Linked DNA regions of Homo sapiens. The main gene of each other region encodes a partner of the protein of the gene in region 4 in a complex. Each region holds a gene or a part of one and is shown on either strand. Other genes may lie near its edges.

Region 1 (7,784 bases), on a different chromosome or scaffold from region 4:
TGTCCTCACTCCTTACCAGGTCCTAAGCACCTACCTTTCTGCTGTACCTCATGTAGGGCATCAGCGGCTTATCTGGTGGCTTTGGGGGTTTTGGAATCGTGATACCAGAGGATGCCTACGAAAGAGTTAAATACATTCATTATTCAACTGTAAGGAGTTCACTGGCAAACTGAAAAGAGAGTCCCTTAAAAAATTCTAATGCGCCTTTCTTCTATTCGTCCAAATATTTTCTTCACTGAAAATAGCTATCACTGCAAATTCAGAAATGTTCAAAAGAAAATGACTTTAAGCACATAATTTTTAAATGTTTTACTTAGCAGTTTATTGCCAATGCTTTGACAACCTGGCTGCAAGAACAAATAAAATATTACACAGTAACCCATACATTGAAAATATATGGTTATATATCAACCGTCTCAAGTTCAGGACATTACCTGGTACCCTCTTATTCTGCTCAATTACCATTACACATACAGTCAACACTTGATTATCTGCAGCAGGATCTGAACCCTTAACACTTACCATTCTCACACTGTCTACAGGGGCCTTAACCTATTAGCACTAGGAATGTACTCCCAACACCACCACAAAAACAACTTCCCAGGTTCAAAAACAAAAACAATTAGTGAAATAACAAACCACCTTACCTCCTTTGCCAGGCTAGAGATTTTATTTCTCTTAAGGTTCTGTCTGTTACCTAGTGGTTTTCTTGTAAAGGGGAATGAGAAGTGTGAATTAAAAGTCACACATTGTTTTGTCCTGAGTCCTAATCACAGTGTAAAAGCAAACAAGTTTATCAGGAACAGAGAAGTGGCAGATATCGGGCCTGATTACGTTATTTTTGAGGTCTTATATCAAGAAGCTCCATTCCATTAAAAATGTTCAGTTTTATGGGAAAGACAGAGGAAAAGGAAAGATGTGATGTACAGGAAAAGAGAGACAGAAGAAAAGGAGGCGGAGGGAAGACTGAAAAATATTTTTTAAAAAGGTAAAGCAAAAATAGGTGAAAGAAAAAATAAAAAAAGAAGGAAAGAGAAAGATAAAGTGATCAGTTTTTCCTGTGGCTTAAAGTCTAGGTGAGATTCCAGACAGCCTCTGGTAGACCACCCAGATAACACCCATCTAAAAGTATCTATTTCTGAACTTTTTAGTCTCCTGTTAATATACATGACTGCATTTGATTAAAGACCCAGAATAAGAAAAATCATTGCTATTTCAGACAATTTGCAAATTTTCAGGAGATCTCTGATATTGACTCTCCCTGCTAGGCTGGAGAAATGAAGTGTTGGCTTTATTTTAATTATCGAAAGACAGGATTGGCAAATCCTTATAGGAAAACTAAAGTAACATTTTGTTCGCTTCCCCTTCTGTTGTTGCTATGATAAAACCCCAGAGATACTCCTCCACTCTGGGCTGGGACCCCAATCATAACCTTATTTTTCATTTGAGGGCTCAGGGATTAGCATGTTTGTGTCCTTTTCCACTATGATCAAGAAATGTTTCCTCTTCCTACAAGGGTCTCTCTCCATCCCTATAACTCTACTTCTTCAAAGCATTTCGCCTTGGAAGCAGTATTTCCTCTCTTTCCATTCCTCCCATGCATTCTTGTCACACCTCATGCTAGTGCCCAGGTAGACAGACACTGTTTTTGGCCAGCAGTGGGTAAGAGAGTGAGATGGCCAGGGGCATGGAAACTGTCAAAAGTGGTAGGATGGGCAGCCAATACAGGGAAACCTGTATCAGGGTCTATAGTTCTTTCAAGGGGAAAGAGAATTCCTATAAGACTAACCTTATGGATTCAGAGGAACAGACACACACAAGTCTGCTTCTTCACACATAAAGTTACTAGAAAGTATTTCCAACTCATATCCAACACAAACCTTCAGAATTCCATGAAATGGATTACAAATAAAGTTGGAATTGTGCCCATAACTGAGGTGGTAAGACCACTGTCAAAATTTTTTGAAATTAAAGAGGTAAAGAATTCTAAAATGCCTATGCTTCCGAGCTTTAATATGAATTAAAACACTTTAAAAACACAGTAGTATTTGCTCTTTGATATTTTTCAAAGAATCACATTTTATATTAATGGAATTGCTATTTCCCCTCCTTTCTCCCAAAGAAAGGTACACAAATCATCTGTATATTGAGACCAGTCAACTTACAACAACAACAACAAAAACCCAAACTAAAAAAACACCCCAAAACAATAATAAAGTTAAATTCCAGATGGTTTTCAGGATAGTAAAGATTTATATCATTACACACCTCCAATTTATTTAACGTCTCAGACAGACATCTTTCTACAATGTCTTAAACATTTCTTTAAAAAAAGCTGAACATACTTTAGACCCTTTCTGGATAAGATTCAATTAGAAACAACCACTGTTTTGCTGTGCTGTAACCCTCTGTCAGATGTCAAAATCTGTTGTTGACTCTTTCAACGGCCTAGGGGCTATGCTTTTGGAGAATGTGTTTCCATTTTTGAACTGTTTCTTTCCTTGCTACTATCAGGAAACCCACCTCTAGCAGCAACTCTCTTTCCAATTTTCTGCTTTCAATTTCCAATGGGGAGGCGGGTAGAACTGTGCTTACAGAAGAGCAAGGTCCTAGGAAATCTCCTATGAATAAAGTTCATGGTTTTGTGAAATTTATCTTGGTTACTCAGTTTTTTGTTGTTGTTTCTTTTGCAATTCTCAGCTGTTTCTCTAGCAAGAACTTATTTAAGAGCTTTCTTCTGGGGCAGAATTTCTATTAATGTACAGAAATAGGCTGTTTTTAAAGACATTTTTGTCTCAATGTGTTTTCACACCTGTACTTAAGAGAATGTTAATCATCATCTGAATGAAGAACTGACTAGGAGTGAATTCCATCTTGTAGCTATCATAAGCACTCCAAAAGGTCTCGACATGCTATACAAAGTATTTACTGTCTGAGAACTACCCAAGTATACTGGAGTCATCAGGGAAACCCAATGTTCTCTACAGCCTACCACAAGCTACTGGACAGGGCTTCACAGATTCGTTCCTTGAAAACCACTAATGCAATCTGCGCACAACAATACCATACAGGAGCTTCCCCTCACCCCCAAAAGTAATGCATAACTAGGGTCATAGTAAAATCAAAATGCTTTTATTATGGTCAAAATCAGAGCCATTGAGTCCTAACAGCTTAAACTAGATATAGAAAGCAGGGCAAGTAGTGTAAAACCTCCACATTTTCTAGGCCCTTCTTCATATAGCAGTTTGATTATACTTCAATTTGGTGTTAAGAGGACAATAATACAAAGTAAATGTCCACAAAGGACCAAAACACCAAATTTTCCATGTCCAACAACTCTCTATAATTAATCTACTATGTAGCTAGTGTCCACGCCAAATGTTCAGTTCTTAACATTCGCCAAGAAGGAATGGGAAGAAACAGATGAGTGACTTCAGATAGGGAGTACACTTTCTCTTCCTAGTCTCCATCGAACAATCTCACTTTTTTAACTGAGAATCCCCCACAGCTACATCCAAGTTAAGAGCAAAATACTTACACAAAACCAAAAGACAAATTACTGTAATATTATAGTTATCATTTCTATTCCATTAACATAGATAATCAAGAGGTGACTGTATAGAGCTATTAAATGCAATCATTCTTGTTTACTGCCCGTGAAAAAATTGCTGCATTAACATTAAGATCCATGATTGATTCCGTTCATTGTTTAAACTGAAATGTTCTTTATCATTTGAAAACCTTGCCATCCATTACACTTGTGAAACAACATGTTTAGGCCAGGGAAAAACATGTATTGATGCACATAAAAATTGTATGCATTGTGAAATGCATACATACACACACTTTGTCAGAATTCTTTTTCAGATACCATGAAATATGCATGGCACATAAAACTTGATATGCTTATGAAGTACATATTATGCAGAAACAATGAAAAATTTAGACAAACAAAACCTATCAAGCTAAGCAATATGCTTATCAAGATAGACATTCATTTGATAGCTACAAGCTTTCAGTTCCAGCTTGACTACAGGGTGAGAGGGCTTTTTTGAAGTTACATTAATAGAAGGCACTTGTTATTTATGAATACAGCAAACAAAAACCAGGTATTAAAAACTTTACAGCCATTCTGGGTTGTATAAATTCTCACCAACACTACATTCCAATGTAGTATTTGACTTTTGGATTTTTTATCTTTAGTAAGTCATTTTTATAATTATTGGCATTTTTTGGTGCTTAAACTTTTTTGAATGAAATTTAAGATGATTCTAAACTAAAAGATTTGAAGTGTATCATCCAATTTTGATATCTTAGGCTGATCACTTAAATGAAACATGCTAAGTTTCAGAAATCCTATCTCTTATACTAAGGATTAGAAATGCACTTCTCGTTGTACATATCTAGTCTGATACTTCAAATTAATTTCATTCAACCTTCACTCTGCATTTCTTTGAGGTGACATTAAAACGTTTTTCTCTTTTTCACTGTAGAGAAATGAGTCTTAGTTAGAAGGTCAACTACTAAATCCAAAAGACAAATAACTATGGGTAGCGATTCAAACTGGTGTACCAGCCAAAAGCTTTCCAGCCCTGAAAAAGCCAGGTCTGAAAGACCAGCCTCTACTAGAAACTCAATCCTTGAGACTAATGCCAATCACCTTATAAAAATGAAAAATACTCTTTATGTCAAAAAGGATATTTTTACCTTAAGAAATTCTGTTTGTTTACATACAGTATAAGCATCAAGTGCTCAAGGCTTTAACCCTACCAACCACCAAACAGAATGGATTTTTCTTTTCTTCTATATACATTCCAGATCTCACTATTTATTTTTTCAGTGTGAGATGCTACAACGAATGTTGAAAATACTCAAAAAGCTAGGTTAAAAAATTTTTTTTAAATGGCTGTGCTTATGATTCAAAAAGACCTAATTCTGAAGGCATTTCTGGTCAATTCCAGTTGTTTGCCGGATGCTGTAATAGTTGATTCTCCTACCGTGACCCGGCTGTTGGTGCCCGGGTTCCCTCCCAGCCTGTAGTTGTTGTAGGCGAGATGACTGTATGGATTGTATCCCACAAACCCTGGTGTGCTGGGCATTTGCTGATGGAAACAAATGAGACAAAAACACGAATGAGAAATGAGCTCAAACGAGGAAAACACAGAAATGAAAAATGATCTGCATATGGCATGCAAAAGCAACCTGAATTTAAACAAGCAATGATGTGTTGTAATTGTTCTTTTTTTCCACTGAGGAAATTAAATATTTTTCTTTCATTGAGAAACCTGTCTGCAGTGTCTTTTGGTTGTTTTTCTCTTTCTTTTTTGCAGGGGCTGGGGGTGTTTGTGTGACTGTGAATGTGTGTTTTGTTTTTTGAGGTAAGCAACACACTGAAGTGTTTAAAACATTCAGGATTACTTTATGGTCAACAATAGGATAAAACAACTTAGCAATATATGAAGACTGAAATAGGAAGGCTTGAAGTGTGATCAACTAGAACTCTGAAAACACTACATGCAAAACAAAATACAATTTATTTGACATGTGGATGCCACCAATGTATTTATCTACTAAAAACAAAAAAAAGAAATGGATCTGATTTCAACGACAGTTTTAAATCATTTTATATAATGTGAGAAATGAGTAGAGACTCAAATCGGGAAGCCAGGATTTGTCAATTGAAAAGAACATATGTTGGATTTGATGGATGTCACATACATGATTTAAAACAAAGACTTGTAAGAAATGCATGGATTTCATTCTGGGGTACTATCTGATCTTTTTAACCCAGTCATTCTTTTATAGGATTTCTCTTCCATTTCTTCTTTGATCCATCTTCCACTGGTCAATCATGAAAACATTTCTGCATTTTGTCTCAATGTGAACTACTTTTCTAGTTTATAGACTTCTTTTTTCATCTAGTTTCCTGATAGCTCTCACCCTTTCAAAATACAACTGCTCATTTCAGCAACAGAACCCTTGGTTTTTGTGAATTATGTGTTGATGTAATCACAAATGGGCTCTTATATAGCAGTAGCCTTGGGGCTAATACAATGACACTCAATGTTCATGAGAACCAAGGCATAATGCATAGAAAGAATATAGTAGAGAGAGACCAAAATTAGGGTATTTTACCTTGTAAAATTCAATCAAAATATGTGACAATTTCATTTTTACATGCAATTAACAATATCGGTCCTTAATTGTATAATGTAAAATACACTTAACACATTCCAACTAAGCTGTAGCTGTTACAAAATAAACACAATTTCCTAAAACATGCCGCTGCACATATCCTTAGTACCCAAAAGAAAGACATTTAAGCAGATATTACATTTGATACTCTTTAGGAGAAAAGAGAACGGCTGATCAATTTCTAGTCTATACAGTTAGAAAAGACGCAAATAAAGCATATTTAAGTAGGCAAAACACAGTTGAAGTATCAAAGGCATGAAAGAAGTGTATATTACTTGCAGCGGTACATTTGGGTGGCAGAGGTGATAGTGGTGATAGTGTTGGTAGTGGTGGTGATGGTGGTGGTGGTGGTAGAAGTAATGGAAAGAAAAAAGGAAGAAGAATAATTCATTTAGTATCCATTCTGTTGGATGTTTTAATCCCTAGTCTTCTATATTTTGTGTGTTAATGTGAAACTATAATGACACAAAAATATAACTAAAGAAAGGCAAAAAAAATTCCTTTTTATGCATAATAAATTATAAGGGGACACTTGGTTTTTGAAATATTTTAATCTCAAAAAATCAAGTTTGTCAAGATGATGCATTGTCAGAGGCAGTATTTTTGTCAAAATGACACCTTCAAAGGTAGCATAAATAATAAGAATCACTGTTCAACATTATGAGGCAATAATGTTATAAAAATAAGGGAACTAAAAAAAAAAAAATGGAAAGCAAAACATTATAATTATACCATTTCCAAAGCTGAAGTACATGGTTAGCTCTTTGAGGTCAGAATCTCAATTGTTCAGCTCCACCTGTATAGCCACTAGCAGAATGCCATGGAGATGGTCATAACAAATGTTCTTCGATTTAAGAAAGAAAACAAAGCAAGCATAGGACTTTATAGTCTACTGGAATTAACTTTAGAGCCTGTATATGACATAAATTGAAATGAGAACATATGGTACGGTATCTCTTTTCTAAAGTATCTCACTAAAGAAAAACAAATTGTTGATAAATGTAACTAAAATATGTATCTGAGGGTTAGTAAATATGAGTAGTTTTTTAGCGGAGAAAACTAAGTTACACAAGGACCTAATTAGTAGTGAAAAGTAGACTAGCCTGAAATTTAGGTGGTGGGGGTATGGAAGGAAGGATTAATATTAAAGAACTAATTTTGTAGAATTTGGTCATGCTAACAGTGTTTTTTTAAAAACAAACAAAACCCCCCCTCCCAAAAAACCAACAAGGAAGCCATTTCAGCAAGACCTGAACAGTTACTGCTAAATCTGTTTTGTGGGTTGGAAAATTATTTTACATGCTGACCAAGCTGGGCCAGAGCTTCCTGGGTGAAAAAACACGTTCACAACTACTTAAAACATATATACTTCCAAACCAATAAAATATAATTTATGGAGTGGAATAAGATTCAATAGCAAGATCTGCCCCATAGATAATGAAATCTTTACTTGAACAGCTTGAAAATATTTACAATGAGTAGTTTCAGAAGCTTTATTGTTTAATATGAAAATTTTAGAGAGAGACAAGAAAGGAGAGAAAAACATAACCAGTTGAAGGTTAGGTTTAACAAAATAGCCAGAATGAGCA
Region 2 (7,784 bases), on a different chromosome or scaffold from region 4:
CTCAGGTGCCCCCGGGGTCACTTCAGGGCCTCCCGAGGGTGACTGTGCTGGGCCCTGAGCCAGAGCCCCTCATGGCAGACAGGGTTGTGGGGTCAGCCTTGTTTTGGGGATGGGGAACTGGAAGGACAAGGACCACCTGCAGTTCTCAGCTGGTGGACCCTGGTGGGCAGGGCCCACCCCAGGCCTGGCAGGGCCCCGCTCCTCGCGGCCTCCCTGGGCTGCAAAAGCTCTAACTTGTGTCCTTTGGTTGTTGCCTCAGCTGAACATCCATGTGGGAAACATTTCCCTGGTGGACCAGTTTGAGTGGGACATGTCAGAGAAGGAGAACTCACCAGAGAAGTTTGCCCTGAAGCTGTGCTCGGAGCTGGGGTTGGGCGGGGAGTTTGTCACCACCATCGCATACAGCATCCGGGGACAGCTGAGCTGGCATCAGAAGACCTACGCCTTCAGGTAGGATCATGCATGAGTCTCTCCCTCCCTCATCTCCCTGCAAAACTGTTTTGAGAAAGACTTCTCTGTGTGAGCGGTGATACCTTTGAGGCTTTCTCACGCTTCGCAGCACAATCTGGCTGGGGTCTGTGTGTTTGCTCCGTCCTCCTCCTGCCCTATGTATCTCTCCAGGGCTCCGCTGTGCCAGGTAGGGTTAGAAGCACCTAACACAATAGCTGGCAAAGACTTGGAGTTCTGTCAGGGTGAACCTCAAGTCCTTGCCTCCACGGAGCCCTGGCCTGCCCCCACCATCCACCATTCAGTTGTCCTGCCCCACACCCTCTCTCTCTGCTCTTGCCCAGACTGTTATTTTGGTCAGGGTGACCCCTGCCCAGGGTTCTTCATCTGTTGAACTTGAATTATGTCTTAAACACAAAGGCCCGCCCAGCTTTTGAGAGTCAGGGGTCCCTAGCAGCTCCTTCTTACTCTAGTATCTCTGCCTTTGGTCAGTCAGAGAGCATTTGATGAGTACCATGCTGGGCTGGACCCCATCCTGGCTGCCCTGGAAGATAGAGACAGGTCACCTTGATCCCTGCCTGTAGCATTTGGGCTGGCTGAGATGGTGGAAGTGTGAACAGAATATTCCAGTCCAGTGTCCTCTGTGGTAGGGATGGGGATGGACCCGGGAGAGGCCCTCCTGTTCCTGGCAGGAGGTGGGACTCAGAGTTAAAAGTGAGGTCAAGGCCCAGTGCGATGGCTCACACCTGCAGTCCTAGCACTTCGCGGAGCTGAGGTGGATCACCAGAACCCAGTAGTTCAAGACCAGCCTGGGAAAAACATGGTGAGACCCCACCTCTACAAAAAAAAAAAAATAGAAAAAATGAGCCGGGCATGTTGGTACATGCCTGTAGTTTCAGCTACTCAGGAAGCTGAGGTGGGAGGATCGCCTGAGCTCAAGAGGTGGAGGCTGCAGTGAGCCAAGATCACACCACTGCACTCCAGCCTGGGTGACAGAGCGAGACCCTGTCTCCAAAAAAAAAAAAAAAAATAGCGAGGTTGAACTCTCCCGGCTCAGCAGGACTCTAGGACTGGGAAGCCCCGTGGTTCCTCACCCTGTCCTCTGTGTTGGGATGGGGTGGGGGTGCAGCAAGCATCCCTACATCAAAACAGGATGTTCAGATTTAGTCTGCTCATCAGACTATCATCATCCACATCTGCAGTCATCACTCAGGGATGACAGCTTAAAATGCTACATGAGGAGCAAATAGGAAGGTCTGTTTTGCAAAGCCATGACAATTAATGGAGCTCGTTAGGTTTGTGTCTAACTTGTTTTCCCAGACATCCCAAGAGACAGCTTTCTATGACTTCCCATAAATCTGAGCAAGGAAGAAGGAATGAGAGCCACCCACGGGGCTCAAGGGCCCGGGCCTGGGAAACAGCTGAGTCCCTGCCTGAGCGCCATGGTGCTGAGATCCTGTGACCTGCCCCCCAGCAGCCCTGCCAGTCACATGGTTCTGCTTCACAGACAGGGCAGCCCAGAGAGGAGGCTGGGGGGCTGGTGTCTGATGCCTCCCTGTTCCCTCGGGGTGTTGCCTGGGAGTGCAGCTGTAGCGTGCATTCACCCTGCACAGAGCCAAGCCCTATGGCCGGAGAGCCAGTCAAGGGTGGCCTCCCTCCACCAGAGTTGACTCTGAGGCCCCGGGAGGCAGTCATGTTGCGCGCATCAACACTGAGCACCTCCTCCCGCAGAGGCTGATCCAGTCAGAACCCTCGTCTTGGGCTCACAGGTGCAGGTGGTAGGCTGGCTGCCCCCAGCATCCAGCCCCTACGGTGTTGACCTTCACCTAGTCCTGCAGCCGCTGCCAGTGCCCACAGTCCAGGGTCAGGAACTGAAGTCCCCGGGGCCTCTTGACAGGTCCTTGCAACATCCCTTCTTTCAGCCACCATGGCACCATCCCTCCTGCTCTGACCCGAAGGTGACCTGAGCCTAAATTCCTTTCCAAGTTCCGGGCCCTCTGCAGTTTGCAGAGTGGCTCCAGAGCAGACCCCCTGGGGAGTCCCTGGTGGTGGCAGGTCAGGATTTAGAGGCAGAGGCGGGCCCCTTCTTTATCTCATCGACCACTTAGTGCATTCCAGTTGCAGGGCCTGGGGGCATCACAGACCCCCTGCCCCCTGCTCTCTCTTATGCTGAGAATGCAGGTTTCAAATCTTTGGGGTTAAAGGCAAAGGCCATCCCGCTGGGACCAAGGTGAGCACACGTCCCTATCACAGCAGCCAGATGGAGAGGCGGCCTGCCTGGGGAACTGGGAAGTGTCCTGAGTGGGCTTTTAGCATCAGGAGGGCTGCGTGTGTCTTCCCAGTCCCCACACTGGAAGACAGCTGCAAGGATAGGACAGGGCCTTAGGGTTGGGCTGTCATCCCTGACTCCAACTCGCGTTCCCCCCACTGTACCACCCCACCCCATGGGATCTTAGGAGGGACTTCGTTTAACTCTGTCCCCAGGGAGACCAGTGTCAGTCCTGCCTGGCCCTGCCTGGGGAAAGGAGGCTGGGCCACTGAGTCCCCAGGTCCAGGGGCCAGTCAGCCCACAGAGAGCTAGACCAGGAGTCCTGGCCTGGTCTCTGCCACACAGAAAGCTTGGCAACTGCTGTGTCACATGACTTTTTGTTTTGTTTTGAGATGGGGTCTCGCTCTGTCGCCCAGGCTGGAGTGCAGTGGCGTGATCTCGGCTCACTGCAAGCTCTGCCTCCTGGGTTCACGCCATTCTCCTGCCTCAGGCTCCTGAGTAGATGGGACTACAGGTGCCCGCCACCACGCCCAGCTAATTTTTGTGTTTTTAGTAGAGACGGGGTTTCACCGTATTAGCTAGGATGGTCTGGATCTCCTGACCTTGTGATCCACCCATCTCGGCCTCCCAAAGTGCTGGGATTACAGGCGTGAGCCACCGCGCTCGGCCACATGACTTCTTAAGAAGGGTTTTCAGGCTAGGCATGGTGGCTCACGCCTGTAATCCCAGCACTTTGGGAGGCCGAGGTGGGCGGATCACCTGAGGTCAGGAGTTAGAGACAGGCCAACATGGCAAAACCCCGTCTCTACTAGAAGTAGAAAAATTAGCCAGGTGTGGTGGTGGGCACCCGTAATCCCAGCTACTCGGGAGGCTGAGGCAGGAGAATTGCTTGAACCCGTGAGGCGGAGATTGCAGTGAGCTGAGATTGCACCATTGTGCTCCAGCCCGACAGAGCTAGACTCCATCTCAAAAAAAAGGGTTTTCAGCTCTGGACCTAGGTCACTCCATAATGGAAGCACTCGCTGATTCCCCAAGAGCCAGTCCCTCCATCTCTCCCAGCCAGAGCTCAGTGCCTGACTTCCATACCCTCCTCGGCAGTGGGGACATTGATTGGATCCATGGTACAGTGGGGCAAGCTGCTGGCCACAGGACATGTGTGTGCAAGGCCACTATGCCCACACCTCAGGGGAACCAGGGCAGAGAACAGCCTGTTCCCTTTGGCAGTGGGACAGACAGGAGACAAGCATGAAGGGGAAACAGGGGCATGTGACAAACTGGTCAGAAGCCCTAGGCTCCTAGAGGACAGACTGGGACCAGAGTGACACAGGCGTCCCAGAGCCAGTGGAGTGGGATGAAGGGCCAGCGAAAGGAGGGAGACAGGGCTCAAGGGGAAGGAGGCTGGGCTAGGCAGAGCCTCTGAGGAGAGCTGATCCTGCAAAGTTACTGGCACCTCCCCTGGGCCAGCCCTGTGTTCCTGGCCAGGGACGGGAGGAGACAGTGCCCTGTCTGGCAGAGGAAACAGATTCATGTGCATGACTATCAGTGTGCCATGGCCACAGAAAGCACCGGAGGCTGTGGGCATGAGGAAGGGCAGTTGGGGGCATAGAACCTGGGGTGAGGATGGCCAGGGCAGGTGCTGATGGGGGACTGCAGCAGGAAGGACCGAGAGGAGACCAGGGACAGGCAGGTGCTTGAGAAGGAAGGTGGGCCCTGTGGATCAGGCAGGGTATCTGCCCCAGGGGGCTCTGCACACCAGCAGTCCTACACGTACAGGGTGGGGATGAAAAGAGACTAAGGGTCAGGGAGCTTGGTAGCTGGGCCTGCATGAGGGACAGAGAGGCAGTGTCCCTCTGATGGCACAGCATCAGGAATTAGGCTGGGGTATGTCAGGTACACGTTGGGCTGGTTGAGCGTAAGCCTCAGGTTCCTTCCGAAGCTCTGCCCGCCAGCCCTGGCCTGATGTCAGGTTTTGTTTGTTTTTTTAACAGCTTTATTGTGATATAATTCATAAACCATACAATTCACACATTTAGAGTATATAGTGCAGCGGTTTTTGATATATGCAGAGAGCTGTGTAACTATCACCACTGTCAATTTTAGGACTTTTTCATCACCCCACTGCAGGCAGTCCCGTTCCTCCCCGCTGTCTCTCAGCCCTAGGTGTCCACTCATCCACTTTCTATCTGTAGATTTGCCTATTCCGGGTACTTCATAGAAATGGAACCATCTAATATGTGGTCTTTTATGACTGGCTTGTTAGCATAATGTTTTCAAGGATTATCCATGTTGTAGCATCTTTTATCAGGACTTCATTCTTTTTTATGATTGAATATTATCTCATTGCATGGATATACCACATTTTATTCATTCATCAGCAGATTGACTTTTGGGTTGTTTCCATTTTTCAGCTATTGTGAGTACTGCTGCTGAGAACATTTGTGTATGAGTTTTTGTGTGAACATCTGTTTTCAATTTTCTTGGATATATACCCAGGAGTAGAATTGCTGGGTCACGTGACAACTCAGTGGTTAGCATTTTGAAGAATTTCTAGACTGTTTTCCAAAGTGGCTGCACCATTTTGCATTCCCACCAGAAGCGTGCGATTCCCGTTTCTCTGGATCCTGCTGGCATTTGCTGTTCTCTTTTTGATCGTAGCCGTCTGAGGAGGTGTGAAGTAATTGTGGTTTTGATTTGCATTTTTCTAATGACTGATGATATTGAGCATCTTTGCATGTATTTCTGGCTGTTTGTGTATCTTCTTTGGAGAAAGTGCTTTGCTAGTTTCTTAATTGGGTTTTATTTTATTGTTGAGTTGTAATTGTTCTTTATATATTCTACATAGAAGTCCCTCATCAGATAGATACATGATTTGAAGATATTTTCTCTCATTTGGAGGATTGCCTTTTCACTTTCTTGATAGTGTTCTTTGAAGCACAAAAGTTTTCATTTTGATGTAGTCCAATTTATCTTTTTTTTTTTTTTTTTTTTTTTTTTTTTTTTTGAGACAGTCTCGCTGTGTCACCAGGCTGGAGTGTAGTGCTGTGATCTTGGCTCACTGCATCCTCCGCCTCCTGAGTTCAAGTGATTCTCCTACCTCAGCCTCCCAAGTAGCTGGGACTACAGGCACCTGCCACCACACCCAGCTAATTTTTTGTTTTTAGTAGAGACGGGGTTTCACCATGTTGGCCAGGATGGTCTCCATCTCTTGACCTCATAATCCGCCCGCCTCGGCCTCCCAAAGTGCTGGGATTACAGGTGTGAGCCACTGCACCAGGCCTGTAATTTATATATTGTTTTAGTTTGTTGCTAGTGCTTTTGGTTTCATATCTAAGAATCCATTGTCAATCCAGAGTCATGTTGCCCCAGCACCATGTTGAAAACTGCTCTTCCTCCATTGAGTGGACTTGGCACCCTTCTAAAAATCATTTGAGGCTCCTGGCGGCCTCGGAGGTGTGAATTGCAAACATAAGGGTGACACCAAGTTTTGGCATCTCCCCTTCCTGGTCGAGTGGCTGTGGACAGGTCATTTTCCCTTGAAGTCTGTATTTTGTCATTTGTAACTTGGGGATAATACTTGTGTGTTGCATCACATGAGGTCATGAAAGTGAGATCACATTGAAAGTAAACCTCAAGATACTCGACCGGCATCAGTCCTGGCTCCCTCTGTCCCTCAGACGTGAGCATCCCCTGCCTGGGTATCTTTGTCCCCACCTGGACACTTTGGGTGGTAGGAAGGTCTGGGGTCCCTGGCGGCTTCGAAGCCCGTGAACCAGAATTCCCTGGAAGGAATGGGGAGCAGGGTGGCTCCCAGGGTCCCCAGCACTCTTTGGAACTCAGGACAGCATCTCCATGCCCACATGCCCCCAAAACCCAAGGCAGGCTAGTGCTGGCTCTAGGCCCGTTCTTACATGGTTGGTGCGAGCATTTCTTACTTTAGAACAAACCCACTGGAGTGGAATATTCCCAGCATCAAGGGGAGGTAAACAAAGGACCCTCTGGGACCCACTCGCCAGCTCTTGTTTAAGAGGAAAACATGTTTTGCTCCCCTCGTTGTGGGCTTGGTACCTTTCACGTCTGCCCTCCAAGGAAGGCTGCTGGGAGCCCTCACGGTGAGGAATGATGTTTGGGGTCTGAGGCTAGGGTGGTCCCTAGACTGCTAAACCACCCGGTGCTGGCCAGGGACCAGCTGTCAGGAGCTGCTGAGGATGGGTCAGCCCCAGAGGGTGGGGGTGCCGACATTGCCTCTGGCCCTGCCTCTGCGTCACCAGTACGAGCTTGAGCTTCTGCGACTCATGAGCATGGACCTGGTGGGCTGAGCTTCAGCTGTGAGGGGTCAGGCCTGCTGCAGGGAGAGCCAGCTGCAGCCAGTGCCCTGCGCTGTGCCCACAGTCCCTGAGACCCCAGGCTGAGGAGAGCAGCACTGAGCCCAACCTGGAACGGGCTCACGGCTACTGGAGCTGGGTGTGTGCTCACTGGTGTGGATGTGCAGAGCCGGGACTCGCTCTGCAAGCAGGCTGGTCCCACAACCTTGAGCCACCCACTACAGGGAGGCTGTGAGAAGGTCCCTGGCCCCTAGGAAGCTCCCTCAGTGGAGATGTTTTGGCTGCTTTAATAACAGTCATCCTTCCAAAGCCCTTCACAGCAATAAATGTTTCCATATTCCAGATGAGGTTTGCAGGGACCTGTCCTCTCTATCAGTGTCCACCTGGCGCCTCCCCCGAGTCCGGCCTGCCCTTGCTTCTCCCAGAGCTCATGGTGTTTTTCAGGGCCGCAGGCTGGCAGGGTGTCCTTCTCCCAGGGGACTGAGCCTAGGGAGAGCCAAGTGGAGGTGCCCAAGTGGAGGAGAAAGGAAAGGACCACAGAGAGGGGAGGGGAAGTGGGAGAGTCATGGTTAGGACCTCAGGCTGAGGCCTTCTGCCAAGCCAGGGGTCTGGTGTCACTCAACTGGGAAACACTGTCAGCACCCAAAGCTGCTCTCAGAGGTGGGGGTGACGGGACCACTGCATGTGGGAGGCACACGGGCCCTGTGGCATCCACAGCTGTGGTCTCCTTAGTGTCCTGTCACAGA
Region 3 (7,784 bases), on a different chromosome or scaffold from region 4:
GAGCCAACACGCCTGCCATCTTGCTTCTTTATTGTCAATATTTTTACTGCTTTTGTTTATCTAACTACATTGGCTAATTTCAAAAAATATTAAGTAACACTAGAACAGTAAGCCCCTTTGTCCAGTGTGTAAATTTAAAAAGGAATTTGTTTTATAGGCTTCAGGCTTGAGACACAAATATGAATTTAAAAAAAAATTACACTAGAAGAAATACCTATTGAAAGTCTTAAAAAAAATCAAGATGGGTTCTCTACCAAATAATCTTTCCTTTGATCTAATGGAATAATGAATGAAATTTAAAGATCTCCCTAACTTTGAACAATTCTTGCTTTCTTAGAATGAATTCCCACTTCTTGGTCATGTTGTTCTCAAAGAAGTAATTTGATTTCACTTACTTTTTCCCCCAAGTAATTTTTGCATCAATATACATGAATAAGACTGAGTTGCAGTTTTTTGTTTTTATTTTTCAGGTTGTGAAATCAAGATTATCTTGGCTTTGCAAAACAAACTGGAAATTTCTTGTTCTCCCTGCTCTGAAACAGCTTCAACAGTATAATAATCATAGGTCCCTTAAAGAAAAAGTCACCTATGGAACTGTCTGACCTCAGTACTCTTTGGGGTCAGTTCTATGATACTTTAAAAAATTTCTTCATGTTGTTGTACATTCTGTATTATATCTCTTCTTGATTCCATTTTGGTAATTTGTAATATCCTAGACAATTAGCCATTTTATTTAGGTTTTCAAATTTATTAGCAGAAATATACAGTCTTTACATTTCTTCCACATTTATTTATTTATTTATTTTTTGAGACAGAGTTTCGCTCTTGTTGCCCAGGCTGGACTGCAATAGCACGATCTCGGCTCACTGCAACCTCTGCCTCCTGGGTTCAAGCGATTCTCCTGCCTCAGCCTCCCGTTGGGATTACAGGCACCCACCACCTCACCCAGCTAATTTTTTGTATTTTTAGTAGAGACAGGGTTTCACCACGTTGGCCAGGCTGGTCTCGAACTCCTGACCTCAGGTAATCCACCCATCTTGGCCTCCCAAAGTGCTGGGATTACAGGTGTGAGCCACCGCGCCTGGCCTTCTTCCACATTTTGTGTCGAAGTTTAACCCCTTTCTTTTCCCATTATTAGATAGTTGGCAGTTTATCTAATTGGACTTGTCAAATAATTAGCTCTTAGATTTACTTTAAAAAAATTTTTTGTTTTTTTGAGACAGAGACTCACTCTGTTGCCCAGGCTGGAGTAGAGTGGCGTGGTCTCAGCTCACTGCAGCCTCCGCCTCCCAGGTTCACGCCATTCTCCTGCCTCAGCCTCCTGGGTAGCTGGAATTACAGGCACGCGCCACCACACCCAGCTAATTTTTGTATTTTTAGTAGAGATGAGGTTTCACCATGTTGGTCAGGCTGGTCTCGAACTCCTGATCTCGTGATCTGCCCGCCTTGGCCTCCCAAAATGCTGGGATTACAGGCGTGAACCAATGCACTTGGCCTGATTTACTTTTAAATTATAATGTACAGTTTTGAAAGTGTAAATTTCTTTCTGTTATAGTTTCCTTCTTCCTGTTTGGCTAAGGTTTTGTGTTGTTGCTCTTTTTCTAAGTTTGAATACTTTATTCATTTATTTTCTGGAATAGGTGTTTTGAGATGTAAAATTTTTTCTGTGTGGCTATTATCTGCATACCTTTTCCAAGTTAAAATTGTCTTCAGCTCGACTGTCCTCTGAGTTGTCTGTATTCTTCTCATCATCACCTTTATCTGCATTTGCAAATACAGAGGCCACGCGAACCACAGGCAGAGGCACATCCCGAGGGACAAACCTGACTGAGCTGATGGGCATGGTCCACAGTTTAATTTTCTTAAAAGATTTGGTTTTGGCAGAATACCGTGATTCACAGACAAAAACATCCTCATCTCGGAAGTTTTCTGGGCATAACTTAAAGTATTCCTGGGGGGTGGGGAGGGCATAAGAATAAAACTAGTTAGGTGAATTTTCTGAAAATCAATCAAAAAAAAAAAAAAAAAAAGCAAATAACCAACCAACCAAACAAAAGCTGAACTGATTACAGACTTTCTGGCAGTTAACAAAAAATAATAAATGACCAGAGATTTAGAAGTATTTCTTTGGCTACGGAATGGACTTATTATATACACACCCTTTAAATTATAAAAACAAATAATTCCATTTAGCTTACAATTGCTCTTTGAAAACATATGAACATTTCATATAGCTATAATGTTCCTTAAAGCTTTGAAGAGGGCTTGTGTGTGTGTATCAGACAGACACACAAAAGCACACATTATTACCTAAAAAACAAACTGAAAATTTGTAATGATTATCCTTAAAAAAACATCATACTTAAAAATTAGCCTGGCAATATTAAAAACTTAACCTAACTGCATTATAGCCAAATAGTGTAAGCAGCAAGTGGTCTTTCACAACGAAGTTCAGGTTAATTTCTTCCCAAATCTTTTCATATAGCTATATAGACACGGCTTAAAAAATAGCTTAAAACAGAGTTCCTAATTTTGTAAACATCGATTATTTTCTGTGTTTTAAAATTTTATTCCTAGGGAATGAGTGAGACTTTGGGATTTAATGAGTTTCTTACCTTGACAAACATGACCACACACTTGCCTAGAATTTTACTAACTGGAACTTTGTTGTAATAGTCACTCTTAAAAACTTCTTTTTCTAGAAATTTTCGTGTAGCCAGGTGGAATGTTTCATTTGGTCGGTAAAACCAACAGCCATACAACCATTTTTCACCTCAAAAATGGGGGGTGGGGGAAGGGGAAGAGAAAGAGAATCATTGTTAACAGAAATCACTTTTTTTTTTTTTTTTTTTTAAAGAGACTGGGTCTCACTACGTTGCCCAGGCTGGACTTGAATTCCTGGGCCAAAGTGGTCCTCCAACCTCAGCCTCCTGAGTAGCTGGGACTACAAGTATAAGTCACTGTGTCCAGCTCAGAAATCACACATTCTTTGCAAAATTAGGAAATACACCATCAATCCACTCTGCCATGACATGAACCTAGCACTGTGCTTATTTTTACAGCTACAGTTTAATATAATTATCCACAGGAGAAATAATACTCAAAAATAATAAAGTGTAATGAGGCCTAAAAAATGCATGCTACTTTTCCCCCCTCATATATATATATATACACCCTCAACCTCTTGGGCTCAAGTGATCCTCCTGCCTCAGCCTCTCAAGTTGCTGGGACCACAGCAAGTGCAATCACACCCTGCTGATTTTCTTATTTTTTCTAGAGAAGGGGTCTTGCCATGTTGCCCAGGCTCTTCTTCATATTAAAAGCCATATAAAGTACATAATGAGGAGGACAGGTGATGAGACCTGCTCCACTCTGCTCTGGTTAGTACATACCTAGAGTTGTGCACTTTAGTAAGGGGACAGATATGCTACTGAAGGACATATTTAGCTCTCTGGTGAAGGAATACAAAAGTATTTCATGTGATAGGCAGCTCAAAGAACTGGATTGCCTGGATCACATTTCCACCAACTTCTGGCTTCATTAATTTCTATGCATACTCCATGTCTCAATTTAAAGGCAACTGTTCTAGAAAGCCTTTTTGAAAACAAATGCTAAGCCAAGGCATGTCATTCTATAATAATTTCTTTTTTGATCATAATCTTCCTTACTGGAGTAGTTTTGCAAGGGAAAATATGAGCTTTTTGTTCTTCTGAATCTATGTCACTCTACATAAAGTTTGGCTCAAAGTATGTTTTTAATAAGTATCAAATGAATGAATGAATCTCAACCAGACTTTAAGAAGCTGTATTTCTTTCTTTTTTTTTTTTTTTTTTTTTGAGACAGTCTCACTCTGTCACCCAGGCTGGAGTGCAGTGGCGTGATCTCGGCTCCCTTGCAAGCTCCGCCTCCTGGGTTCACGCCATTCTCCTGCCTCAGCCTCCCGAGTAGCTGGGACTACAGGCGCCCGCCACCAGGCCCAGCTCATTTTTTGTATCTTTTTAGTAGAGACAGGGTTTCACTGTGTTAGCCAGGATGGTCTCGATTTCCTGACCTTGTGATCTGCCCGCCTCAGCCTCCCAAAGTGCTGGGATTACAGGCGTGAGCCACCGCGCCCGACCTAGAAGCTGTATTTCTTTTGACTCAACTGTGACACTTGCCCAATAGGTCCTATGTTTTTCATATGATGGGTGCTTACTTACATTTATTGACATATTGAACAATTATTATGGAAAGGCTTAAGATGTCTGAGTTAAAATTTTCTTCCCTGAGGAGCAAGGAGAAGTCAAACAGTCATATCTCACTAAACTGTCCTTTGATTTAAAACAAACTTACCAGCTGAATCCTCCCACAGTCTTTCAATACAGACGATATGTGGTTGTAGGTTGGCCTCTGCAGGTTCCACATAGACGTAATCTCCAACATGGTACATGCTGTTTTTAAAGCTACAGTCCTGGCTGTATGTGCGATGTAAGCCTGAGAGGCCTGCAGCACCAGAGGAATCTTCACTCTTTTCAGCTTCTTAGGTAAAAAAATAAATAAATAAAGGAAAAAGGTACTCACCAAAGGGATGCTGAAGTCAGATGTAGGGTTCAAACAACACATACTAATAATACATTTAATACATTTAATTCCATTTGCAACATGCGAAGGCAGGAATCAGCAATAGTATGATCTTCACATTCCTAATAGCCTCTACTCAAAACTATCTTTGAATTACAACCATCATTAATTTAAATGAATATATAACTACACAAAGGATGTAGAGAATAAAAACATCACCTTACTAATATATGATCATATGGACATTTTGGATAATATCGAAAGGCACAAAGAAGTACGTATGTCGTTTCGAATCAAGTAATTCTAGAGATAATCTCTGATATACTTCATCCCCACCTTAATGCTTCTTAATGTGTTTCATTTCACTAAGTTATTACACGAATATGACACATTTAATGGAGTCTTAGAATTGAAGAAATATAGAATACATATATTCTACAATATACTATAAACTATATCTAGTATATATACTTAATATATCAAGAACACTAGCCCTGAGAGGAAATGCTTTTCAAAATGACTTTTATTTTTATTTATTTATTTTTTTCGAGACGGAGTTTCGCTCTTGTTGCCCAGGCTGGAGTGCAATGGCACAATCTCAGCTCACCACAACCTCTGCCTCCCAGGTTCAAGCAATTCTCCTGCCTCAGCCTCCCGAGTAGCTGGGATTACAGGCATGCACCACCACGCCTGGCTAATTTTGTATTTTTAGTAGAGATGGGGTTTCTCCATCTTGGTCAGGCTGGTCTCGATCTCTCGACCTGAGATCCGCCTGCCTCAGCCTCCCAAAATGCTGGGATTATAGGCGTGAGCCACCGCGCCCAGATGACTTTTATTTTTGTTAAGTAAAACTTATTAATAGTTCCAGTACAGGCCGGTAGCGGCAGCTCACGCCTGTAATCCCAGCACTTTGGGAGGCCGAGGCGGGCGGATCACTTGAGGTCAAGAAGAGTTCAAGGCCAGCCTGGCCAACATGGTGAAACCCCATCTCTACTAAAAATATTAAAAAATTAGCCAGCATGATGGCAGGTGCCTGTAGTCCCAGCTACTTGGGAGGTTGAGACAGAAGAATCGCTTAAACCTGGGAGGTGAATGTTGTAGTGAGCCAAGATCAGGCCACTGCACTCCAGCCTGGGTGACAGAGCAATACTCCATTTCAAAAGAAAAAAAAAAAAGTTCCAGTACAAGCTATCGTTTGCAAATATCACAGGGTTTTTATTGAGGATAAAGCTTTGCCCAAATCTTTGATTACTTCCTTAGGTTAATTTCCCATAAATGGAAGAGCTAATAATAAGCATTTTAAATGTTATTTATTTTATTCCTCCTGAAACATTAAATTTTCTTTTTCTTTTTTTAGACAGTCTCACTCTGTCACCCAGAGTCTTGAACTCCTGACCTCAAGTGATCTGCCCGCCTTAGCCTCCTAAAGTGCTGGGATTACAAGCGTGAGCCACCGTGCCTGGCTATCTAAATTTTAAAATAGTTTTTCTAGTTCTGTGAAGAATGTCATTGGTAATTTCATACGATTAGGACTGAATCTGTAAATTGCTTTGGGCAGTATGGCCATTTTAATAACATTGATTCTTCCTATCCATGAGCATGGAATGTTTTCCCATTTGCATCTGTCATCTCTGATTTCTTTGGGCAGTGAGTAATTCTCATTGTAGGGATCTTTCACCTCCCTGGTTAGCTGTATTTCCAGGTATTTTATTCTTTTTGTGGCAATTGTGAATGACAATGCGTTCCTGATCTAGCTCTTGGCTTGGCTGCTATTGGTGTATAAGAATGATAGTGATTTTTGTATACTGATTGTGTATCCTGACACTTTGCTGAAGTTTATCAGCTGAAGGAGCTTTTGGGCTGAGACTATGGGTTTATTAGATATAGAATTAAGTCATCTGCAAAGAGACGTAGTTTGACTTCCCTCTTCCTATTTGAATACCCTTTATTTCTCTCTCTTACCTGACTGCCCTGGCCAGGACTTCCAGTACTATGTTGAATAGGAGTGGTGGGAGACAGCATTCTTGTCTTGTGTCAGTTTTCAAAGGGAATGTTTCCAGCTTTTGGTTATTTCAGCATGACGTTGGGTGGCTTTGTAATAGATGGCTCTTATTATTTAGAAGTATGTTTCTTTAATACCTAGTTTATCTAGAGTTTTTAATATGTCAAAAAGCCTTTTCTACATCTATTGAGATAATGTAGTTTTTGTCTTTGTTTTTTTTTTTTTTTTTTTTTTTTTGAGACGGAGTCTTGCTCTTGTCTCCCAGGCTGGAGTGCAGTGGCATGATCTCGGCTCACTGCAACCCCCGCCTCCCAAGTTCAAGCAATTCTCCAGCTTCAGCCTCCTGAGTAGCTGAGATTACAGATGCCCACCACCATGCCCGGCTAATTTTTGTATTTTCAGTAGAGATGGGGTTTCACCATCTTGGCCAGGCTGGTCTTGAACTTCTCACCTCGTGATCCACCCGCCCCGGCCTCCCAAGCTGTTGGGATTACAGGCGTCAGCCACTGCGCCCGGCCTTTTTTTTTTTTTTTTTTTTTGACATAGTCTTGCTCTGATGCTCTGATGCCCAGGCTGGAATGCAGTGGCGCCATCTCGGCTCACTGCAACCTCTGCCTCCCAGGTTCAAGCAATTCTCCTGCCTCAGCCTCCCAAGTAGCTGGGATTACAGGTGCCCACGACCATGCCCGGCTAATTTTTGTATTTTTAGTAGAGATGGGGTTTCACCATCTTGGCCAGGCTGGTCTTGAACTCCTGACCTTGTGATCCACCCGCCTCAGCCTCCCAAGGTACTGGGATTACAGGTGTGAGCCACTGCACCAGGTTTTTTTTTTTTTTTTTTTTTTAAGACTTGAGATGGATTCTCGCTCTGTCGCCCAGGCTGGAGTGCAGTGGTGCGATCTTGGCTCACTGCAGTCTGCCTCCTGGGTTCAAGTGATTCTCCTGCCTCGGCCTCTCGAATAGCTAGGACTACAGGTGCGTGCCACCACACCTGGCTAATTTTTGTATTGTTTCTAGAGACAGGGTTTCACCATGTTGGTCAGGCTGGTCTCGAACTCCTGACCTCAGGTGATCCACCCACCTTGGCCTACCAAAGTGCTGGGATTACAGGCATGAGCCACCACACCTGGCTGTCTTTAGTTCTTTTTTATGTGATGAATCACATTTATTGATTTGCGTATGCTGAACCAACCTTGCATCCCAGGGATAAAGCCTACTTGAC
Region 4 (7,705 bases):
CCTAAAGGGCTGGACACAAAATGATTTTAGGTGGCCCATGCAAAACCATTTATTACTTTCCTAACTATGCATGAATTAATTTTTATTCCTTTTTTTAGACAGGGTCTCGCTTCGTCACCCAGGCTGGAGTGCAGTGGCTCAATCATGGTCCACTGCAGCCTGTACCTCCTGCCCCAGCCTCTCAAGGAGCTTGGGACTACAGGGGCATTGCACTCCAGCCCGGATGACAGAGCGAGACTCCGTCTCAAAAAAAAAAAAAAAATCAAGTGTTCACTACGCATCAGGTGCAGCAGTGTGTTAGCGGCTTCCCATGTGACCTCATTCAACCCTCACAAGAAGCCTGTGAAGTTTCGGGCATCCTCGTCCTACCTGTTTCACAAGTGGGGGGCCCTACTGCTAAGCGCCTCGCTTGAGGTTAAGCTACGATTTAGAGAGCTGGGTGTGAATTCAGGAGGTCTGATTCCAGAATGAGTACTCCTTACCACCACCCCACGCTAACCACCACCCCACACTTTGTAGGGGAGATGAGGACAACTGAGGTTCAGGAAACAATGGCTTGGAAAGTGCAAAAACTGTTCAAACAACTAACCTGTATCCCTTACAATCCACCCCCAGTCCTGCACCAAGCTTTCTTTTTCTTTTTTTTTTTTTTTTTTTTTGAGACAGTCTTACTCTGGTGCACAGGCTGGAATGCAGGGGCACAAGAATGGCTCACTGCAGCCTCCACCTCTCTGGCTCAAGCAGTCCTCCTACCTCAGCCTCCTGAGTAGTTGGGACCACCGGTGCATGCCACCACACTCGGCTAATTTTTGTATTTTTTGTAGAGATGAGGTCTCACTATGTTGCCCAGGTTAGTCTCAAACTCCCGGGTTCAAGCAATTTTCCCGCCTCAGCCTCCCCAAGTGCTGGGATTTCAGGTATGAGCCACTGCACCTGGCCCTGCACCAAGCCTTTTACACAGATGGTCACGCGATCTTCCACAGGACCCCCTCATTCAATCCACATAAGTTCGCTAAAGACCTACTATGTGTCAGGCCCAGGGTACTGTGGGGCCAGCCAGGCAGACACAACCCCAGCTCTCACGGTGCTGGGGGTGACAGCTACACCGGAAAGGACCAAGTTGATGTATGAATGTAGCTGAGGGGAACAATGGCTAGTCCGAGGTGGCCAGGGAAAGTCAAAATACAATCCTGGCGCAGTGGCTCACACATGTAGTCCTAGCACTTTGGGAGGCCGAGGTGGGTGGATCACCTTAAGTCAGGAGTTTGAGACCAGCCTGGCCAACATGGTAAAACCCCATATCTACTAAAAATACAAAAATTAGCCAGGCGTGGTGGCGGGCGCCTGTAGTCCCAGCTACTCAGGAGGCTGAGGCAGGAGAATCGCTTGAACCCAGGAGGCGGAGGTTACAGTGAGCGGAGATTGGGACTCTGAACTCCAGCCTGGGCGACAGGCAAGACTCTGCCTCAAAAACAAAATACAATCCTACACACCCTCCCTGATTTTGAGGCCCCCTCTTCCAAGCAGCCCCCGTGATCTCTGGCTACCACCGATCCCCTGCCTGTCCGCTGTGTCCCTCTCACAGTGCAGGTTCAGAGCAATAAACGATAGGCCAAGAGAGTTTGTTCCCACATTTACCACCCGCTCCCCTCCAAGACTGCAGAGGCTCCAGGATCCAACCCCCGACCATCCAACACTTAGTAGGGCCTCAAGAAGTTATCTGCTGAACAATGAGGGAGATTGGACCAGACAATTACAATAGTGCTTCCCGCTTGCGAGGAACCATTTTACAGGCTTTCACCAATTCCATTTGGGAGATTACCCCCTTTCACAAAGGAGCTTTCACAAAGGAGGAAAACTAAGAGGTTCAGAGAGGTTAAGCCACTTCCCTAAAGTGACAGTGTGCTAAGTGACTGACAGCACCAGGAATCAAGCTTGAATGCAGCCTATCAATCCAAACTGAAAACTTGCTTCAAATTCCTGCGAAGCGGCTTTTCCGCTTATTCCCTTGCTACTTTCCCCAAGGAGTCACTGACCAAAAAAAAAAAAAAAAAAAATCAAGACTGGTATCTTCAAGATCGGGACAAAACACTCGCCCAAAAGGTCCACGTTGAAAATAAAAGCCTTAATCTGAAAAACCAATTGGGAAGGAGAAAAAAGGATGCAAAAGAAAAGCAATGCTTTTACACAGCAAAGGATTTCCTCCGTGCTCCCCTACTTGCCGCCGACCCCATCCCCAACCCCAATTCGGGCAAACATTTTGAAGTCACTAACTGCAAGGCATCGGGGGAGTCCTTTACCTTTCCTTGAAAATCTGGAATGACACGTTTTTAAGACAATTTGAGGTCGGCTAGCCCAAGGGGACCGCTAATGCCCGTGTCCGGCCGACGCCGGACATATCTGGAGGTTTGGCTGAGCCCCGATCGCAGCTTCGCCAAAAACGCAACATTCGGGTCGGACCCGTTACCACGCAGCCAGAAAAGCCCCAACGCCTGCCTATTGTTGCAGCCGCTGTAATTGGGAGGGCGACTGTAGGGGTGCCGGGCGAGGGGGGCGAGCTTTGTCCGGCGACCCCGGCGAGAGCGCGCGCGGAGAGGATCGCGCGGCCTCCACGCGGCCCGGGCCCCCCACCCACCCCGCCGCTCCGCGGGGGCCGCCGCTGCCACGGCCTCGCGACACTGTGGCCTTCCCCACGCGCGCGGCTGCCGGCTGGGCTTCTTGACCCTCGGGCGCCGCCGTACCCCGGCCCCGCACAGGGCGCGCCGGCAGCCCCCTCCCCCCTCGGCGCCCCGGCTCCATTCAAACCGCCCTCCCCGGCCCCGCGCCGCGCTGCCCCCGCGGCCCGCGTTCCTTACCAGGAGCCGCCGGCGCCGTCGACTTCCCGGCGCCTCCCCCGCCCCTCCGCGCGGGGCCGGGGGCAGAATGGGCGTCTCGCTTCTCTTCACGAAACAAAGAAGCCGCCGCCGCCGCCAAACGAGGGGAAGCCTCGCGCGCGCGCCCGCCCGCCTCGGCCACCGCCCCCCCTTCACACACACGCGCGCCACCCGCGCCCCCGCTGCGCGCGCGCTCGCCGGCTCCCCTCCCCCTCAGCACCGCGGCGGCCTCTCCAGCTTCCGCCGCCTGCCCGGCCTCGTGCGCGCGCCAGCCCGCCCTTCCGCTCCCGGCGCGCGTGCGCGCCCGTCCCTGGGCGGACGGGGGTGGGCGTGGCCCGGAGGAAGCACGCGCGTCCGATGCACCGCCCCACTCGGGCCGCGATGGCCCCGCGCCTGCGCACGCTTCGCCTTCTGCACGCCTCGCGTCTTGACGCCCCGGAGCATGCGCAGAGCGGACGCCACTGCGGCGGCGGTGGCGGCGGCCGCGGTGACGATGGGGCAACTGGAGAATGGGATCCCGGTGGCCGTGGGGTCCGTGGGGAAAGGAGGTCCCTGAGGCTCGGAAATAGGAACCCTGGACCGTAGGACGGGCCGCCTGGACCAAGACCGGGCAGTGGTTTCCCGCGGGCCAAGGGCGCGCCTGGGAACCGCTTTGATCCCTGACCTGGGGCGGCGAGGCCTATTTGGGGAGGCAAGGCGGGGCCCGACCGTGGCCGCCTTCTCTGCAAAACTTCCCAAGTGCCATTAATTAGCTTAGCAAATATTTATTGATCTGCTACTGTGTCCCAGCCGCCGTGGAGCCCTCGGTCTAGTGGGGAAGGAGGACAAGAAGCAAGATTAATAAGCAAAATAGTGCAGTATGAGAGGCCGGACTTGGTGGCTCACGCCTGTAATCCAGCACTTTGGGAGGCCGAGGCGGCCGGATCACCTGAGGTCGGGAGTTAGAAACGAGCCTGACCACCATGGTGAAACCCGTCTCTATTAAAAATACAAAAATTAGCCGGGCGCGGTAGCTCATGCCTGTAATCCCAGCACTTAGGGAGGCCTAGGCTGGTGGATCATGAGGTCAGGAGATGAGACTATCCTGGCTAACACGGTGAAACCCCGTCTTTACTAAAAATACAAAAAATTAGCCGGGCGTGGTGGCACACGCCTGTAGTCACAGCTACTCGGGAGGCTGAGGCAGGAGAATCGCTTGAGCCCAGGAGGTGGAGATTGTAGTGAGCCGAGATCGTACTATTGCACTCCAGCCTGGGCAACAAGAGTGAAATTCCGTCTCAAAAAAAATAAATAGTACAGTGTGAGGTGAACACTGGGAGGATCATGGACATTTTAAATAGGGCAGCCACGGAAGTCGTCGTTGCAAAGAACACGTTTGAATGCATACAGGCTGGTGGTGAAAGAGAGAAACCTTCCTCCGAGAGTGAAGGCCCTGAGCCTCTTGGCCTCTTCTGTGTGTTTTCTTTTTTGTGTGTTTGTTTGTTTGTTTGTTTGTTTGTTTGTTTGTTTTGAGACGGAGTCTTACTCCATTGCCCAGGCTGGAGTGAGGTGGCACGATCTCAGCTCACTGCAACTTCTGCCTCCCAGATTCAAGCGATTCTCCTGCCTCAGCCTCCCGAGTAACTGGGACTACAGGCGTCCGCCACCACGCCCGGCTAATTTTTGTATTTTTAGTTGAGACAGAGTTTCACCATGTTGGCCAGGCTGGTTTTTAACTCCTGACCTCAAGTGATCCGCCCACCTCAGCCTCCCAAAGTGTTGGGATTACAGGCGTGAGCCACCTCACCTGGGTGGGTTTTTGTTTAATTGTTTGTTTTATTAGAGACAGGGTCTTGCTCTGTAACCCAGGCTGGAGTGCAATGGTGTAACCACAGCTCAGTGCAGCCTCAAACTCCTGGACTCAAGGGATCCACCTCAGCCTCCCAAATAGCTGTGACTACAGGTACATGCCACCACCACCAGCTTTTTTTTTTTTTTTTTTTTTTTGTCTGTTATGTTCTGTAGAGCTGAGGTCTGCTGTGTTACCCAAGCTGGTCTCAAACTACTGGGCTCAAGCAGTCCTCCTGGCTCAGCCTCCCAGTGCACTGGGATTACAGGCATGAGCCACCAAGCCAGGCCCCAGAAGGACCTGGGTTTAAAACACGACTCCATTTCTACTACCTGGGTGATGCATGGGTAATACCAGGCAGGTTTACCAGAGCATCTACACCTCACTTTCTTCACCTGTGAAACAAACAATAAGGCTGGGTGCGGTGGCTGACATCTGTAATCCCAGCACTTTCGGAAGCCAAGGTGGGCAGATGACCTGAGGTAAGGAGTTCGAGACCAGCCTGGCCAACATGGTGAAACCCCGTTTCTACTAAAAATACAAAAAAATTAATTAGCCAGGCATAGTGGCAGGTGCCTGTAATCACAGCTACTCGGCAGGCTGAGGCAGGAGAATTTCTTGAACCCAGGAGGTGGAGGTTACAGTGAGCCAAGATCATGTCATTGCGCTCCAGCCTGGGTGACGAGAGTAAAACTCCATCTCAAAAAAAAAAAAAAAAAAAAAAAATGCTGGGCCCAGTGGCTCACGTCTGTAATCCCAACACTTTGGGAGGCCAAGGCAGGTGGATCATGAGGTCAAGAGATTGAGACCATCCTGGCCAATGTGGTGAAACACCATCTCTACTAAAAATACAAAAATTAGCTGGCTGTGGTGGCGCGTGCCTGTAGTGCCAGCTACTCAGGAGGCTGAGGCAGAATTGCATGAACCCAGGAGGCGGAGGTTGCAGTGAGTCGAGCGTGCCACTATACTCCAGCCTGGTGACAGAGGGAGATTCCGTCTCAAAAACAAAACAAGACAAAACAAAAAAAACCCACCAGAAACAATAATGGCTCCCACTTCCACTGTTTGGTTATGAGGAATCATGACAGCAGGTAGCCCACCTGCTAGCTCTCTGATCCTCAGCTAGTGTTATTGAATAGTGCACAGTAAGTGAGCAAGTAGAAGTGGGATCTGAACTCGATTCCTCATTCATTCAAGTAGTTATTTTTTTGTTTTTTTGTTTTTGTTTTTGAGACACAGGCTTGCTGGGTCATCCAGCCTGGACTGCGGTGGCACGATCAGTACTCACTGTAGCCTCGACCTCCTGGGCTCAAGCGATCCTCCTGCCTCAGCCTCCCGAGTAGCTTGGACTACAAGGGTGGGACACCACACTCAGCTAATTTTCTTAAAATTTTTTGTAGAGACAGTCACACTATGTCGTCCAGGCTGGTTTCAAACTCCTGGGCTCAGGTGATCCTCCCACCTCAGCCTCCCAAAGTGCTGGGATTACAGGCGTGAGCCAAGGCGCCCGGCCAAATAGTATTTCTTATGCTCTCTCCAAATGCTAAGCATTGAGCTAGGAATACCCTGCAGCAATGCATGGAGGAGGCAGGGTTGCTGCCCATGGAGTGGATGGTATGACTGTTCTCTAATTGTCTTTTATGCTAATCACACTAATATGCAATAGTGTAAAGAAAAACAGGCCGGGCCAGGCGCGGTGCCTCACGCCTGTAATCCCAGCACTTGGGAGGCCGAGGCAGGCGGATCACCTGAGGTCAGGAGTTCAGGACTAGCCTGACCGACGTGGAGAAACCCTGTCTCTACTAAAAAAATACAAAATTAGCCGGGTGTGGTGGTGCATGCCTGTAATCCCAGCTACTTGGGAGGCTGAGGCAAGAGAATCGCTTGAACCCAGCGGGCAGAGGTTGCGGTGAGCTGAGATCATGCCGTTGCACTCCAGCCTGGGCAACAAGAGCGAAACTCCGTCTCAAAAAAGAAAAACAGGCCGGTTGTGGTAGCTCATGCATGCCTATAATGGCAGTACTTTGGGAGGCCCAGGCTGGCAGATCACTTGAGGACAGGCGTTCAAGACCAGCTTGGGTAACATTGTGAAACCCCATCTCTACAAAGCAATACAAAATTTGCCAGGTGTCTCAATTAAGAGCACAGTTCTTAATAATGAACTGCCCCTGGGACCTTGGCCCCATGTCTGCATTGACACCCTTGGCTTCCAGACTTTAAAAAAAAAACATCTACAGGCTGGGCGCAGTGGCTCACGCCTGTAATTCCAGCACTTTAGGAGGCCGAGGCAGGCAAATCACAAGGTCAGGAGCTCGAGACCAGGTCAATATGGTGAAACCCTGTCTCAACCAGGCACGGTGGCTCACGCCTGTAATCCCAGCACTTTCTCTGGGATCGCAAGGTCAATATGGAGTTCGAGACCTGGTCAATATGGTGAAACCCCGTCTCAGCTGGGCGCAGTGGCTCACACCTGTAATCCCAGCACTTTGGGAGGCCGAGGCGGGCAGATCACGAGGTCAGGAGATCGAGACCATCCTGGCTAACACAGTGAAACCCCGTCTCTACTAAAAATACAAAAAAATTAGCCAGGCGTAGTGGCAGGCGCCTGTAGTCCCAGCTACTCAGGAGGCTGAGGCAGGAGAATGGCGTGAACCCGGGAGGCACAGCTTGCAGTGAGCTGAGATCCCGCCACTGCACTCCAGCCTGGGCGACAGAGCGAGAGTCTGTCTCTAAAAAAAAAAAAAAAAGAGAGACCCCGTCTCTATTAAAATACAAAAATTAGCCAGGTGTGGTGTCAAGCACCTGTAGTCCCAGCTACTCGGGAGGCTGAGGTAGGAGAATCGCTTGAACCCAGGAGGCGAAGGTTGCAGTGAGCCAAGATCACACCACTGCACTCTAGCCTGGGCGACAGAGACTCCATCTCAAAAAAAAAAAAAAAAGAAGGGGAGGAGAGGGCAGGGCAGGGGAGGGGAGGGGAGAGGAGGGAACGGGAAGTGGGGGAGGG

Evidence for each region.
Region 1: SMARCA4 (region 4) and SMARCE1 share a complex: the UniProt entries of both Homo sapiens proteins name them as parts of the BAF complex.
Region 2: SMARCA4 (region 4) and SMARCB1 share a complex: the UniProt entries of both Homo sapiens proteins name them as parts of the BAF complex.
Region 3: SMARCA4 (region 4) and PBRM1 share a complex: the UniProt entries of both Homo sapiens proteins name them as parts of the SWI/SNF-B (PBAF) chromatin remodeling complex.

What each region holds. Positions count from the first base shown.
Region 1 is NC_000017.11:40,637,458-40,645,241, forward strand, and holds part of SMARCE1 (SWI/SNF-related matrix-associated actin-dependent regulator of chromatin subfamily E member 1), read right to left. Parts: intron 5,103-7,784; coding exon 4,998-5,102; intron 116-4,997; coding exon 35-115; intron 1-34. UniProt on the Homo sapiens protein: Involved in transcriptional activation and repression of select genes by chromatin remodeling (alteration of DNA-nucleosome topology).
Region 2 is NC_000022.11:23,824,966-23,832,749, forward strand, and holds part of SMARCB1 (SWI/SNF-related matrix-associated actin-dependent regulator of chromatin subfamily B member 1), read left to right. Parts: intron 1-259; coding exon 260-450; intron 451-7,784.
Region 3 is NC_000003.12:52,584,738-52,592,521, forward strand, and holds part of PBRM1 (protein polybromo-1), read right to left. Parts: intron 4,519-7,784; coding exon 4,333-4,518; intron 2,774-4,332; coding exon 2,616-2,773; intron 1,952-2,615; coding exon 1,688-1,951; coding exon of another isoform or gene 1,676-1,687; exon of another isoform or gene 444-1,675; intron 1-443. UniProt on the Homo sapiens protein: Involved in transcriptional activation and repression of select genes by chromatin remodeling (alteration of DNA-nucleosome topology). Required for the stability of the SWI/SNF chromatin remodeling complex SWI/SNF-B (PBAF).
Region 4 is NC_000019.10:10,956,325-10,964,029, reverse strand, and holds the start of SMARCA4 (SWI/SNF-related matrix-associated actin-dependent regulator of chromatin subfamily A member 4), read right to left. Parts: upstream 3,001-7,705; 5' UTR 2,856-3,000; intron 2,721-2,855; exon of another isoform or gene 2,301-2,720; intron 1-2,300. UniProt on the Homo sapiens protein: ATPase involved in transcriptional activation and repression of select genes by chromatin remodeling (alteration of DNA-nucleosome topology).